Regions from separate parts of the Homo sapiens genome. Here region 1 is linked to region 2. A link means that fine-mapping ties the variant in region 2 to the expression of a gene that starts in the linked region. Tissue or cell type: whole blood. Region 2 holds a variant in brackets; the other region holds the start of a gene. All regions are shown on one strand. Distances are from middle to middle.

The links. PIP is the estimated chance that this variant, and not a neighbour inherited with it, causes the effect.
Region 1: it holds the start of AP4E1, and the variant in region 2 is fine-mapped to the expression of AP4E1 in whole blood (TOPMed, PIP above 0.99).

Annotation. Positions count from the first base shown.
Region 1 is chr15:50,905,528-50,913,617 of GRCh38, forward strand. AP4E1 (adaptor related protein complex 4 subunit epsilon 1) reads left to right here and starts at 3,156. Exons shown (of 21, transcript NM_007347.5): 1 at 3,156-3,401; 2 at 6,551-6,622. The coding sequence starts at 3,252. RefSeq lists enhancers at 2,749-3,490, 2,965-3,254, 3,275-3,444, 3,491-4,232.
Region 2 is chr15:51,086,369-51,094,475 of GRCh38, forward strand. All of the region lies in intron 1 of TNFAIP8L3 (TNF alpha induced protein 8 like 3), which reads right to left. All of the region lies in intron 1 of MIR4713HG (MIR4713 host gene), which reads left to right. Among named protein-coding and RNA genes, the nearest start is that of TNFAIP8L3, 4.5 kb to the right of the region's middle. RefSeq lists an enhancer at 7,560-8,107 and a silencer at 8,013-8,062. The variant C/T (reference allele first, on the strand shown) is at 3,797.

The sequences.
Region 1 (8,090 bases), 180 kb before region 2:
TTGCTCTGTCACCCAGGCTGGAGTACAGTGGTGCGATCTTGGCTCACTGCAACCTTCGCCTCCTAGGTTCAAGCAATTCTCCTGCCTCAGCTTCCCAAGTAGTTGGGACTACAGGTGTGCCACCATGCCCGGCTAAATTTTTTGTATTTTTTTTTTTTTGAGGTGGAGTCTTGCTCTGTCGCCCACGCTGGAGTGCAGTGGTGAAATCTCGGCTCACTGCAACCTCCGCCTCCCGGGTCCCAGCAATTCTCCTGCCTCAGCCTCCCGAGTAGCTGGGATTACGGGCGCACGCCACCATGCCCGGCTAATTTCTGTATTTTTTTAGTAGAGTCATAGGTTGGCCAGGCTGGTCTTGATATCCTGACCTTGTGGTCTGTGCACCTTGGCCTCCCAAAGTGCTGTGATTACAGGTGGGAGCCACCGTGCCTGTCCGAATATTTTGTATTTTTAGTAGAGACGGGGTTTCACCATGTTGGCCAGGTTGGTCTGGAACTCCTGAGCTCAGACAATCTGCCCGCCTTGGCCTCCCAAAGTGCTAGAATATAGGCATAAACCACCGCGCCCGGACGACAAAATATTAAATTCTAGGCAGGGCGTGGTGGCTCACACCTGTAATCCCAGCACTTTGAGTGGCTGAGGCGGGCAGATCATGAGGTCAGGAGACCGAGGCCATCCTGGCCAACGTGGTGAAACCACATCTCTACTAAAAATACAAAAAATTAGCCGGGTGTGGTGGCACGCACCTGTAATCCCAGCTACTCGGGAGGCTGAGGCAGGAGAACTGCTTGAACCTGGGAGGCGGAGGTTGCAGTGGGCCGAGATCACACCACTGCACTCCATCCTGGGCAACAGAGCGAGACACCATCTCAAAAAATAATAATAAAATAACAAAATTAAATTCTAAAAGAGTATCCCTTTCTGGCTGGGCGCAGTGGCTCGCGCTTGTAATCCCAGCACTTTGGGAGGCTGAGGTGGGCGGATCACCTGAGGTCAGGAGTTCGAGACCAGCCTGGCCAAAATGGTGAAACTCTGTGTTTACTAAAAATACAAAAATTAGCCGGGCATGGTGGCGGGCGCCTGTAATCCCAGCTACTCGGGAGGCTGAGGCAGGAGAATTGCTTGAACCCAGGGGGAGGAGGCTGCAGTGAACCCAGATTGTGCCACTGCATTCCAGTCTGGGTGATAGAGCGAGACTCTGAAAAAAAAAAAATTAAATGAATAAATGAGTATCCCTTTTAGATAAAGTTTAAATATTTTAAAATGTTCTCAATATATTAAAAAATATTCTTGCGAGACAAGCCAACAAATTGAACTTTTTTCTTATGTTCCCATATAGGTATTAAAACAACTTCAGGATTTCAAAAAAACTCATTTATTAGGTGACAAGGAGGTTACAGAGATTAGAGCAGGTATAACCGAAGATAGCTTGTAAGTGTAGCTGTAGCTGGTGGGCCGGTTGAGGTTCTGGACTTCGCGGTGCAAAATAATTTTGAAGTCCAAAGTAAAAGCAAGCAAAAGAGTTTATTGCAAAGCGAAAGTACACCCTCACAGCTGATCAGAGCGGGCTGCTCAAAGGTGAGACAGCATGCACTGACACTGGGGAAACTCCCTTTGTAGGAGTCTCACAGGATCATTCATGAAGCGGGGAGAACGGGTGCTGCTATTAAGCACGTTCTCTGGTTTTCTGTCGCCATGTGCGCTGTGGTTGTATATGCTAGTACATACACTGCATGTCTTATTAGTATCTTAAATCTTCACCCAGGAGTGGTGTTTTTTTTTTTTTTTTTTTTTTACTATTATAATGAGTATAATTCAGCCCAACGACACTGATCATGGGTTTCTGCGCTTGTGAGAGTTTGGGGATTTTCCCTTCTGCTCTCGTACCTCTTTGCTGCAAAATTTTCTAACCAGGAGCCTCGGATGTGGTTTGTACACTATGGGCTGGTTTGTTCTATTTATTTAGCAAGTTTGTTCCCCTTGAAGGGAGGCTATCACCACCTACCTAACCTACCTCCTAGAAACACACTAGGAGTACTGAGAGCAAATTGCATTAATCTCTGAAAACGCACGTATTTATGCCCTAAACCTACTACCTTAGAAAATTCTAGAAAACACAAGGATACTCCAGGATACATTTTACCAGCTAGTCAATCGTCATCTAGCCGCTTGAAAACTCTGTACATTTCCAACAGAATGAGGGTAAAAACGGCAAATAACACGTAAGAAACGTTATCAATGTTGTTTTGACTTTGTGAATTCCCTAGAAGGGTCTCAGCGACCCTGAGGTCACCAGACCACATTTCGAGAGCCATTGTACCAGACTCTGTTCTAGATAAAAGACGGAGCAATCGGAATGAATAAAATACTCTCTCTATGGGGAGCTGTTTACGTAGTGGCAACTGCGACCTGTTCTAAAGTGGAACAGAACCGAGCGCTGTGAGAGGGTGGGACTTGGAGACCTATCCTTGCCCGCCGGGCCAGGGGAGTGGGCTCTAGAAGGATGACCTTTCAACTGCGACCTGCTGAGGAGGAGTCGGCAAGGGTGGCCGCCGACCAGTTCTCTTTCCCGCCCACCTCCCCAAATCCCAGGAGAAGAGGGGCGGACGGGAAGCGACAGTGGCCGCGAGTCCCCGGCACGCGACGGGCTCTCAACCTGGCACGCCGAATCCTCAGGACAGCCCCGCTATCACGCAACTACTCGGGTGTCCCAAGAGTCGCCAGGGCCGGAGCCGCGCGCGGCGCCGGGGACCCGCGTGAAACCGCCTGTGGGAAGCGGGCGGGTGGCGCGCGCTCCGGGGACAGTGAGAGGCGGCGGACGGCGCGGGGACGTCCCGAAAAAGGCGCAGCCAGGAAGACGCAACTCCTGACGCGGTCTCGGGCTACGCGGAGGCGGCTAGTGGGAAAGGGGGACTCTGGGAGACAGTGCCTAACAGGGCCAGGCCCCCGACGGCTTCCTCAGGAGGACTCACGGTTCTGGGGGATTCCGGAACCGCTACCCCGTCGCGAGAAAGGAGGTCTACTTACGCGCGCAATCTCGAGCGAGCGGCCTTTTCCACCCCCGCGGTCTCTTGCGCCCTCTGGTGGCCTCTCGCGAGAACGACGCTGAACTTGTTCAGGTGGGACGCCAATAAAGATTTCTTATTCAAAAAACAGGAAGTGCCTACGGAGGCCGGGCCGGCAGCGGCGGCCGGGCATGAAGCCGGGCGGCTACGGGATCGCGGGCGGCGGCGGCATCGCGGGCGGCGGCGGCGATGAGCGACATAGTGGAGAAGACGCTGACGGCGCTGCCGGGACTCTTTCTGCAGAACCAGCCCGGTGGTGGGCCCGCGGCCGCCAAGGCGTCCTTCTCCTCGAGGCTGGGCAGCCTTGTCCGCGGCATCACAGCCCTCACCTCCAAGCACGTAGGTGCCCGCCGGCCCGGGAGCTCAGGGACATCGGAGTGAGGCCCCCGCGCCAGGAGGCCCTGGCCGGGCGGCGAGACTTCAGGGCCTCTGGGGTTAGCCCTCCGGCGGGGCTCAGGGGCTGCTGTGTCGGTTCGTCCTTTCGTCTGCCTGGAAGCTTCACTTTCCTGCTGGGACTGACAGCAGGGAAGCCGAGTTTCCACAGTTAGTTCTGACACTGACTCTTTGATCGGGGGCACATCTCTGTAACCTCTGAGCCTCCGTGTGTTTTCTCAACGTTGTGGTGGAAAAGTACTGATACATAATTCATAGGTTTTTTGTTTGTTTTGAGGATTGGGTGAGATGTCAAGCGTGTGAAAATACCTAGTGCGATGGAAGTGTCAGACATTATTTACCTTCCACAAAGTTTTTTTTCCCTACTCAGTTTCCTTCTCTCCCCCGGTGCCTTCAACTGAACAACAGTTCAGATGTCGCATACCTGAAGAGATCCTGTGAGCCTCTTGTTGAATATCTTTGGGGAGCTTGAGGTTCTTGGGTTACAACAACGTGTTGGGCAAAGAAAAAGCACAGTTCTCTCAAAATGTAAAATTTGCTAAGTCTCTGCCTCAAGTGGGCTTTGAAAATGAGCAGTTATAAAAATTCTTAAACTTTTAAAATTTTTAAATTTTTATTGACGGAGTCTCTCTCTGTCGCCCAGGCTGGAGTGCAATGGTGCGATCTCGATCTCGGCTCGCTGGAGCCTTAAGGTTTTAAAAATTTTAATTTTTGTTTTTTTTTGAGACGGAGTCTCGCTCTGTCGCGCAGGCTGGAGTGCAGTGGCGCGATCTGGGCTCACTACAAGCTCCGCCTTCCGGGTTCACGCCATTCTCCTGCCTCAGCTTCCCGAGTAGCTGGGACTACAAGTGCCCGCCACTGCCTGGCTAATTTTTTGTACTTTTCGTAGAGACGGGGTTTCACCGTGTTAGCGAGGATGGTCTCGATCTCCTGACCTCGCGATCCGCCCGCCTTGGCGTCCCAAAGTGTTGGGATTACGTGCGTGAGCTACCCTGCCCGGCCTTAAAATTTTTAAATTTTTAATGACGGAGTCTCGCTCTGTCGCCCAGGCTGGAGTGCGATGGTGCGATCTTGGCTCACTGGAGCGTCTGCCTCCCGGGTTCAAGCGATTCTCCTGCCTCAGCCTCCCAAGTAGCTGGGATTATAGGCGTATGCCACTACGCCCGGCTAATTTTTGTATTTTTAGTAGAGACAGGATTTCACCATGTTGGGCAGGCTGGTCTTGAACTGACCTCAAGTGTTCGCTCACTTCGGCCTCCCAAAGTGCTGGGATTACAGGCATGAGCCACCGCGCCGGGCCCCCACAGGCGCTCGATGGTTGCACGGATTGTGTAGTATACCGATTCACAGCTACAAGGAGTTTATATCTTAAAAAGAGCACGTGTTAATGTCATTATTTGTTCAACAGATGTTTATGGAACAAGGTTATGTGTTAGACACAGGAAAATAGAATTAAACACATTCCCTTTTCCCAAGGAATTAGTCATTCGTTTTGGGCTTAAGACAAGTATAAGCATGACTACAATGCAATAGAAGTGCTAAAAGAGAAGGAAAGACAGAAAAGAAAGTGCTCTGAAGGTTTAAAAAAAATATTTTTTTGGCAGCTCTAATAAGTTGATGCTATCCGGAGAGAACCTGCTTCACATTCCAGAATCATTACTTGTGGGCTTGTCTTGTTTTGTTTTGTTTTTGAGATGGAGTCTCACTCTGTCGCCCAGGCTGGAATGCAGTGGTGCAATCTTGGCTCACTGCAACTTCTGCTTCCTGGGTTCAAGTGATTCTTCTGCCTCAGCCTCCCTGGTAGCTGGGATTACAGGCACACGTCACCATACCCGGCTAATTTTTATATTTTTAGTAGAGACAGGGTTTCGCCATGTTGGCCAGGCTGGTCTTGAACTCCTGACCTCAGGTAATCCACCTGCCTTGGCCTTGGCCTCCCAAAGTGCTGGGATTACAGGCGTGAGCCACCACGCCTGGCCATTTGTGGCCTTAATAATGTTGTTTTTCTTAAGGTTTTTGTCCTTTGCTAATTTTTAAGGGATCCTCAATAAAATTTTTTAAAAAGTTATTTTTGGTCTTAAATAGCAGTTTGAAACTGTAGATAGGCATCCACGTGTATCAGTACGTCACTAGTGGCTTTTGAATAGCCATCTGATGAACATGTAATTCAGTGTGTAATTTAAAGGTAGCATGATATTAGCCAAAAAAAAATGGGGCCAATTTTTTAAGTGCTTAGGGAGATAACATACAATGCAGACAGTAGGAGTGACCACATTGGTATGTGTCTGAGATAGGAAGTTATGGAAAGGATTTGGGGAATGAGGAAAAGACAGGGAAGAAGAATGTAGTTTAAGGGAAAAAGACCTATTTCTGTTTCTGCTTTCTTACCCTGTTTCTTAATTCCATGAAGACTTTTTACTTCTAAGGGGAAGATGTGAGATGAGACTCTTTTCTTGGGCCAATACATGGAGAATTTCTACTCTCTCTCCACCTTTAATTTTTTTTTTTTTTTTTTTTTTAGATGGAGTCTTGCTCTGTTACCCAGGCTGGAGTGCAGTGGTACGATCTCGGCTCACTGCAACATTCACTTCCCGGGTTCAAGCGATTCTCCTGCCCCTGCCTCAGCCTCTCGAGTATCTGGGATTACAGGACCCCCAGCTAATGTTTGTATTTTTAGTAGGGACGGGGTTTTGCCATGTTGGCCAGGCTGGTCTCAAACTGCTGACCTCAAGTGATTCACTCGCCTTGGCCTCCCAAAGTGCTGGGATTACAGGCATGAGCTGTTGTGCCCGGCTTCCACCTTTAGTTTTAAAAAAAAACATTTTCTGCTATTCTACCATTAAGGGGAAGTAACTGAGTAAAGAAAAGAGGAAGGATGGGTTAGCCTGGAAATATTTATTCTCTCCAGGGATGGTTCTGAGGTTTGGAGAAATGCCTTTAGATAGATCGTAAGCAGATAGTATTTGTAACTCTCCTTTAAAATAATGTTTCTTTTAAATTAAAAGTATTGTAAATTATATTTTTCCGTTTAGATAAATGCTGTTACAGTTTTAAAAGACAGTTAATCAAGCATTTAAATATTTTCACTTTCTCAGGAAGAAGAAAAATTAATCCAGCAGGAACTGAGTAGTCTGAAAGCGACTGTTTCTGCTCCTACTACAACACTGGTAGGTTTGCATAGTCAGTGCCAACACATTTGAATTTGAAATCTAGTCACTGTGGACTCAATAGTGGCATCTAACTGATGATCGGTTGCTAAAATTTGATTTATCATAGTCAAAATGAATTATAGTTGGTAGCAACTCAGATGTTAACTTTAGCCTTTTATTGTTGACTGGTTTGCACCAGAACAAGATTTGCCTATGTGAAGTCAGGGCTAATGTGATGATGATTACATAAATGTGGAGATACTCTTGGGACCCTAGTGCTGATCTGATGTTTTTAATGTTATGCATTTGGAAAAGGTTGGGATTTCAACATGATATTTTCAGACCTGAATTAATATATTGTAGGTATATCTAATTTTATTATTTAAGACCTAGTTGTTTTTAAAGTTTGTTCTACATAATCTGATTTTTCAAACAATATTCAGCAACTATTTAATGAATGGTCATTCATTATTATGCAGGCCACTGTGGGGCTGTCCCAGCATAGCTAGATTAAAACTCAGTTTGATTTTTTTTTTTTTTTTTTGAGACGGAGTCTCGCTCTGTTGCCCAAGCTGGAGTGCAGTGGCGTGGCGTGATCTCAGCTCACTGCAACCTCTGCCTCCTGGATTCAACCGATTCTCCTGCCTCAGCCTCCTGAGTAACTGGGACTACAGGTGCCCGCCACCATGCCTGGCTAATTTTTGTATTTTTAGTAGAGTTGGGGTTTTCATCATGTTGACCAGGCTAGTATCGCACTCCTGACCTCAAGCGATCCACCCACCTCAGCCTCCTAAATCAAAGTACTAGGATTACAGGTGTGAGCCACCGTGCCTGGCCTGATTTTTTTTTAAATGAGATTTTGTTTCAAGCAACATATCTTCAGCAAATATTTGGTGAGTGTCTTCAGTATATAAGCCACTGTGGGAATGTTTTCCCTCCCTGCCAGTAAAAATATCAGGACGATCATTTTGCATAAGCACATGATTGTGAATTTGAATAACACTTGTAAAGTCTGAGAGAATGAATATATTTTCTTCTGTGGTCATAATAATAGTATGTGGCAAATAAAACTGAAAACATAATCTGATATATCCATGTGTATATATGTATATGTATGTTTGTGTGTATACATGTATGTGTGTCTGTGGCTATGGATAAAATAATTATGCTTCATAGTACTAGATAGAAACGTTAAACAGAAATGGTTTTTGTTTGTTAGATTTCCATTTTTTATGATTGGCATCAGTATATAATTTTCCTTGTTCCAAGGCAGAAACCTGAAGTTGGGCAGAACTAAGATAAATAGGTAGAAATTAGGAAGGCAGAGTTTGAAAGGAAGGTTTTATAACACTATGGCCATCCAACTCTGTGTATATCTTACAGAGTAGTCTGTCCCAGAGCTGTTCATGTAAAGGTTGGCTGTCAGAGAAATTGTAAAGAGAATTCTTGCATTGGGGAATGCACTTTCATCTCTAAAAATAAATGC
Region 2 (8,107 bases):
GCCAGTCCTTCCCCATTTTGTTTATAGGCTAATGCAGGGAATGTCTGCAGCTTAAAGCAGGCCTTTGTGGAGGCAGAATGCCCTCACCTAACAGAGGGAGCCTAAGGGTTAGGGTTCTGGGAACCGTGGGAGCTGTGTGGGGGATGCAAGACAGCCTGGTGGCATCCGTGAATCTAATTACGTAGTCTACCTGGTGCAAGAGAAGAGTCTCTGGAGTTAGACTGGCTTCATTTCTACTGACAAGCTGTGCAACCCTGAGCAGGTTACTTAACCTCTCTGTGTTTGGTTTTCTGTTCTATAAATTGGGGCTATTTATAGTACATAGCCCAGAAGGCTGGTATAAGGATCAACTACCATATAAACAATTAACCCAGTCCCGAATACATTGTAAGTGCTTAATTAATATAGGATAAATAAAAAGTAAAACATCATTATACTTTTATGTTCAGTAACAGCCCTCTGGGGCTGACCTTGGGCTGGCAAGGATCATGCCATCTTATTTCTCATCTTGTTTTGCTACAACTTCTTTTTTTTTTTTTGGAGTCAGAGTCTCTCTTTTGCCCAGGCTGGAGTGCAGTGGCACGATCTAGGCTCACTGCAACTTCTGCCTCCCGAGTTCAAGCAATTCTCCTGCCTCAGCCTCCCGAGTAGCTAGGATTGCAGGCATGCACCACCATGCCCAGCTAATTTTTGTATTTTTAGTAGAGATGGCTGGTCTTGAACTTCTGACCTCAGGTGATCCACCCGCCTCAGCCTCCCAAAGTGCTGGGATTACAGGCGTGAGCCACTGCACCCAGCTCACAATTTCTTAAACCCTGGTTTCTCTTATCCTGTAACCCCCAATCCCAGCCTTCCCACCCTCACTTTCTCAGTCTTATCCAAAGGAAACCAAGGAGCCATGACTCAATTGTGGCAGGAAAGAGCTGCCACAGAGGCCTGCTGGGCAGATGGCTCCCCTCACCTACCTCCCGTATTTGACTTCGTATTTGCCCACCTTCCCAGCATAACCCACAGGCTCCAAATCAGGAGTGTGGGATGTGTGTGCTCACTAGCAACAGCTCCTTCCAGAATCTCCTCCCTCATGTGAAACTGGATGCTTCTACTACAAAAATATAAACCAGGAGTCTCCATGAAGCTACGTATGGCTAACATGCTTCCTTTCATGGCCAGAATATTTTCCCAGAAAGCACATTTTACTTCTGAAACACAACCTAGAAGCCAGTGGCTGCCCCTGTGGTTTTTCAATAGTTTAAAGCAATATTGGACACCACCAAGTGTCTCCTTTTTTTCCCAGAGAACTGAGTTACAAAATACTGGTTTCTATTAGGGTGTGTCTAGCACTTTCTGTGCTGCCAAGCCTTCCATTTTTACAGTATGCACACTGGTAGATTTTCCATGAACAGGCTCAAATTTATTCCCAGGCAATGATGCTTAGGAAACCCAATATGAACGTGAAGATTGTTCTAAAGCAGACTCAGAATTTGTCCCATGCCATTGCCTAAAAAGAACATTTCTGATATGTAATAAAATAAAATTTTTCTAGCATACCTTTATATATATATATATATATATATGGGAAGGGGGAGGATATTTGCTCTCCTGATATGATTTTTTGGATTGGATTTTTAGAGGAAACTTGTCTTTTAAATTCTTCTTCTCTATCCTTTTATTTCTATATTTGTATAGAATACAGCCCAAACATCCACCTACATAGGCATTTTACATAAAGAGTTGGAAGCCAAGTGACTGAAAAACAAAACAAAGTTATTTATGTAGTGTCTTTATAGAGATTTACATGTGAATTCGAATGGGAGCCAAGGGTAATGCTGAAGGGAAATGAACCAGTTAGGGAACTATGCTAATAGAAAGTGTGACTAAAATTTAGCTTTGTTGACAAATAAAAAGGCAAGTGCTGTATTTTTTATGAGAAAAATAACATAGGAAATAGAGCTTTCCATGTATATATTCATATACACTCAGTCTTCACCTTAAGAAGCCTTCCCACTAGAATTCCAAATCACATTGCCCTATGCTCCAAATCCTGCACCAATTACTGCTGGTGCTGCCCAGTTTTACAGATCCAGTTTGAGGTGGGTTTTCTCTCCCCAATATGGCTACAAACCTCTGGAAGGCAGGAGCACATCTAAATGCATTTCTGTATACTATCACAGCACCTGGCACCACTCTGAACACAAAACAGCTGATCAGCCAGCATCTACTGGACTGTGTGGATTGAACAGTTGGATTCAGAGCTATGAGGTCTAGAATGGCCACTTTAATCTGGCAACCGAAACTGCCCCAAAGAGGTCTAGACAAAGTTTGCAGTTCAACAACTATCCCCTGAATTCTGCTGGTAGACAGGCCTGCCATCCCTAGTAAACAGTCCTAAAGATCTGTGGAGGCCACCTGTGGTGACCACTGCCATGTGCTGCACGGACTCCCCTTCAGGAACAAAGGACTTCCTCCACAAGTGGCTGGTAGTGCTACCTGCAGAAGCCCTCAGCTGGAGGGAACAGCCTCACTCAAGGTTATTCCTAGTTCCTTGAAATGACTTGCCTTTAATGACTGCTTATTTTGGGGGTGTAAAGGTATAAAGACCTGGCCTCTCACCCCAACTCAGAATAGTTCTGATGAGCCATTCTAGCTCCAGAGTTCCCATGGGCTCAACTGAGGCTGTTGGGTCTACATGGTAGCTCAGCTTCTCTGCCCAGTCCTGCTCCCTTCCCTTCCCCCTTTTTTCCCTTGCCTTCTACAGTTATTAATTCCAAGAGAAGTCCCAAATAAACCTTGTACATGCTGCTGACCTCCATCTCACAGTCTGCTTCCTAGCAAACCAACCCACAACACCATCCATTCATCCATCCATCCATCCGCCCACCCACCCACCTACCTATTCAGCCAGCAACCTGCCACTATGCTTAGGGGACATGGGTGGCATGGGCTGATACAGATGAAAAAGACCCAGTCCTTGTCCTTAGGAAGCTAACTAACAGTCCAGCACAGGAATAACCATAAAGTATGCAATAGGAAGGGCTGGTGTCAAGGGATATGTGGTTGTGGATATGATGCCAGGTAAGGGAGGTGAGGAGTCTTCATGCACTGGCTTAGGCTGTGGTCATCAGTAGACATACCCTGTCTCCTCATCCAATGTCAAGTCCTGGAGGACAGGGTGAACTGTGTCCTTATCTCTCTTTGCATTTCCCATAATTCCTAACACAGAGTCCCAGACAGTACAGAAATCTTAAAACACTAAAACAAAACAAAACACTGAGGGAAAGCCTTGGCATCCTGTCTACTTTATAGGACAGGTTTCTGGCTGCTGGTCTGGCCTTTTAGGGCAAAGTTCTTAGGAGGTTCCTCAAGATGCTCATTCACTTACTATGTCCATAAAATCCCAGGAACATGAAGAAGCACAAGACAAGGTCCTGACTCCGAAAGCAGCTACAGCTTACTCTGTGGATGAGGCAGAGATCCGTGCAAATTTCAACAAACAGGAACAAGAAATGGGAATATGACTAATAACCAAATGGCACATCATTCCCAGGCTGTCCTTGCCCTTAGCAGGCCAGCCCATTTATCTTCAATCTGTCAGTAGACAAAGATTACTAAACAGCCTCTGCAAGGAACCTAGCAATGAGAATCAACAAACCCTCAAACCTCACAGTGCCTCAAAACTAATGCACCTGAGAAACTTAATGTCAAAGGGGAAAAGAATCTTTACCCCAAACACCACTGCTAAGTGCCTGAAGGAAGAGGCAGCGTCTGTGGGGTGGGGGAGCCTGTCTCCTGCATTTCC[C/T]TGCCTCCAGAGAACGTTACCCAACACAACATGTCACTGTCTCCTTCAACTCTCCCTCTCCTTTCACTGCTTTTGTACAATCTGTCACCAACTTCTGTTGTTGATTTCTCTGAAATGCCATTTGCACCCTCCCTCTTCCATCTTGCCTTAGTGCCACTACCTTCTCTGATGTTGTGGCCATACCCTGGGAGTTGAGGTGCCAAGTCCAGGCAAATCTTGCATCTCTCCATCTCTGCCAGATGTACATTCTGAAAACTCAGCTTTCATTTGGTCACATCTCTGCTCAAGAATCATGGGGGCTCCAGAAGCCCTGCCAAGACCAACTTACTCCCTGTACTCGCTTAGCTTTATCTCCCAGAACTCCCCAGTATGCGCCCTCTACTCTAGCTGCCTTCCTGTTTATTTGTGTCTTTTCTCAAGCTGTATGACTTCTGGAATGTCTTTCCCTTTCACCTGCCACCTCCTCAACAGGATCCTATTGAATCCTATCCATTCCTTCAGTTGGTTCATGTGGACCAAGCTAAGCATGTAGGGGAGGAGAGGGAGAGGAAGGGCAGAGTTAGGGGCCTGGTGTTTTCCCAGTCCTGTTTTTCTCTTGTGGTTCCCCTACCACATTCTGACTCCATCACATGGAAATGCTTTTCTGCAGCACCGACCCAGGCACAAGGGCACCATCAGCTTGATTGCCCTGGACCATCTATTTGTGGGAGGAAGGAGCTTATCTGCCCTCAGCTGGGTAGGCTGTCTTGATCTTCCAAGCCAGAAAGGGGAAAAAACTGACGTCGCTGTTTACTCTCCTGTTGCTTCTTAGGAAAGACTTAACCACTCCCAAGTGAATACACCAAGCTCTAGGATTTCTGAGAGATGGATGGTGGGTTTGCCAAAGGAAAGAGTGCCAAGTTGGGTCTCTGGAAAGAATCCAGTGTTCCATAAACCTTGCCTCTTCCCTAATCATAGAAAGATCCATAAAATGACAGAAAGGCAGAGGAGAATGCAGGCAGCACAATGACATAGAAGCATCATTCTGTGCTTCCTGAAAAACAGAAAATGCAGATGGAGACAAATTTCATCCTCCGCCCCACCCTCCACTGCAGCGTGTTGCTCTATGAGAGATCTGCTCTGCACGCACAAAGTGGGGGGAACTTTGGAAGAGTCTCTTGAAAGTAGTACAGTAAAAAGTGAGTTGTCTTTGTCCTCTGCCAATAGGTGACTAGAAAGGTGACCATGATGGTTCCTGCCACCTTGAAGGGAAAAGGTTTACCAATGGAATGTGGGAGGTGGAGGGCAGGGGATTGCCTCCTCTTCTTCCACTTGAAGCACCATGAAAGAAGAAACGCTTTCATCTCCACATTAGCAGGTGGACTGAGTAAGGGGTTCTGTTTTTTTTATAACTTTCCCTAGAGGCATAGGAGAAGCTGGTGAAAGCAGCAGGTTGGAATATCCCCATCTTCATGCCTTGTGCTGGAAGATGGATGAAGATGAGAAGAGGTAAACTAAAAAGACCTCCTCAAGCACACACACACACACACACACACACACACACACACACACACGTGCACACACCAGAGATAATGAACAAGAGACTGAAAAGGAGAAAATTCAAAACAAATCTCTTTAGGCAGTTATATTAATGTGATAATAACAGCAGCAACATTAATTGTTTTAAACATGCATTTATATTTTAAAACACTAGAGTTCATTATTTAGCAGTATTCTTACAACAAATAATCCAATCAGGTAATAATCAAAATAACAGCTACCATTTACTAAATGATTACCAGGAACACCTCTCGTGTTATTATACTGAATCTTCATAAACCCCTGTGGTACTACTGTTATCCTCATTTTACAGAGTGGGAAACTGAGGTTGGAGATGTTAAATAACTTGCCCATGAGGTGCAGACTGAAACTCAGGTCTGTTCAATTCCAGAGTCCAGCCTTTTACACTTACAATGTCCATCTTATGGCAGGGCTTTTTCATAAATTCAGGAAATGGAAAGGCATGGATGAGGAAGCAGCCCTTATGTCTCAACTCCCTGTGAGGCAGGTACACACACACATATAAGTACTCCAAGAGGTCCCACTCACTCTGCTGTACTTCTCAGTTACACCCATTCAGCTTTCATAGATACAGGTCCATGGATGAATGTCAAGTTTCTTGTAGAGACAAAGGTCAATCTCTAAGGAGAACACACCTGTTATCTAACCTGTATCTGAATCTGCAACAACGGTTTCCATTTGACAGGATGCAGCCCTAGCAAGGTGGTGAATTAACATCCAGCTTTGAAGCACTGTCATACAGGAGAATACTTTAAGATGGAATATAATGCGTGAGACTGACTGCCATTTAGCAGAATGGCTTGTGACATTAAAATACATGTTCAACGTGTGAGATTCAAGCACACGCAGAAAGAAGAAACAACTGCAGAAAACAGTAAGGTGCAAACAAATAGTGACAGCTCACGAGAGCTGTCTGCCCTGTTCTTCATGGGGCCCATCTGACCTTAGTGATGTTTGCTGTCAGCTACGCAGAGGCCTTCTGACACAAACTGACCGTGAATACAACAGGGATATTAAACACTGGGTCAGGCTGGAGAGAGAAAACAACAGGGTGCAGCAGAATTCTTTTCCTTCCCTTTCACCCAAGTACCAGGGATTCTGAAGATTCTCCTCCCTGCCCCCGGCTTCTCTTCCTTCCTCTTTCTCTAAGCCTCCTTATCCTCCTCCCGCTTCTCCCTCAACCCCTTAACTTCAACCAGAAGAAGAGATAGAGGGTTGGGCAGGGGAGCACAGAGAATGTTGTTCTTAGGATTTTGAGAGAGTTAAGCGTCAGGGTCAATGTCCCCTTCCCGCTTGCGCTCTCGAAATAGATACACACAAAACATCTACTGGAACTTTTAAATGATGAGAGGAGATCCACAAGTCACCTGTGAAGCAAAATCTCAGCACTTTATAGTCACAGAAACATACAGGCATGCAAAGGGCTCATGTTTATGAATTATATCATACCTAGGCAAAGCAGGTGGCACTTGCACACACACAGGAATCCTTAAATACACGCATCTTGGCATTTCCTTTCCGCCAGCCTTGGCCCTTCCCACCCACCCAAAGGTGCGGGCCACAGCCACCCTCTGTGGGGTCTGATGCAGGGTGAAGGGCGTCACTGGGTCCTGGCTACTCCCTGGCTGTGAGAAGTGGGCAAGCCCTTTACTCTATGGGAATCTCTGTAAAATGAAAATAACTGCCTGGCCAGGGGCTGTGAGGATGAAAGGGTATTAATAATATACGCAGGGCACTGTCCTGCTTGGTTCCCGAACCTCTCTTTCCTACACCCACGGCTGGACTGATGGTGCCTTCTGTTACTTGGTCCCCACCGTCAGTACTCTAGTGTGACACTGGGAAGAGTGGGGGCTTAGCCAGGGCCGCGGTCTGTACAGGAGGGTCCCAGCCCGCAGGTCACGGGTCTGCAGGCCCACAGCTAACCTTCAGAGCTGCACAAGCGCCGGGAGCTGTGGGCACGTGAGGAGGGCGAGCGGGTCCTAGGTGCGTAGACCCGTGGGTGGGGGGCGGAGCGGACCGGTGGAGGTGGGCAGAGACCGGCGGCAAGTCGACCCACGGCTGTGGGTGGCTTCCTCCTGTTGCTCAGTATCAGGGAGAGGCGGGGGAGGACATTCATTTTTTTTCTTCCCTAAGTAAGCATCCACCTATTGCTTTAATAACTATCGATTGTGAAAAGCCGGCGGGGCCTCTTAAAGGCGAAGTCGGGAGGCGCGCGCCCCTGCGTCTGTGTTCGGGGACCAGTCCGCGGGGACCTTCTGGACCTTCTCCGCCGGCTGCGCGGCAGCGATGGACCCTGTGCATGGGCTCTCCTAGCAGCCTCGGGAACCGCGGCCGCAAGCTGTGGTTTGACCCCTGCCCCAACCACTCGCGAGGCCTTTTCTGTTCAGAGCCCCCAGTCACGTTCTTGGACCCAGTCACCTGCGCCGCAGCGCAGTCCCGGCGCCCCAGGTTCGAGGACCCGGCCCGCGCTCGGAAAGTTATTTCAAAAGGCAGATGTGTTGCAACCCTCTCTGCAGCAAACTACAGTACGCGGATTCCCGAACCCTTCCCCGCCCCCACCCAGCCCGGGCGACCAGAGCCCGCCGCGGGAGACTGGCAGCAAGGAGAGCCACCCCTAAATGCACCTTCCCTCCCTCCCGCGCGCCCAAGTGCAATGGGGTTGGGGGAAGCCCCAAAGCAAACTCACGACGCGGAGCAATCCCCAGTCTTGGCCTGGAAGGGGTCGGGCTGCTGAGGATCGGCTTCCCGATT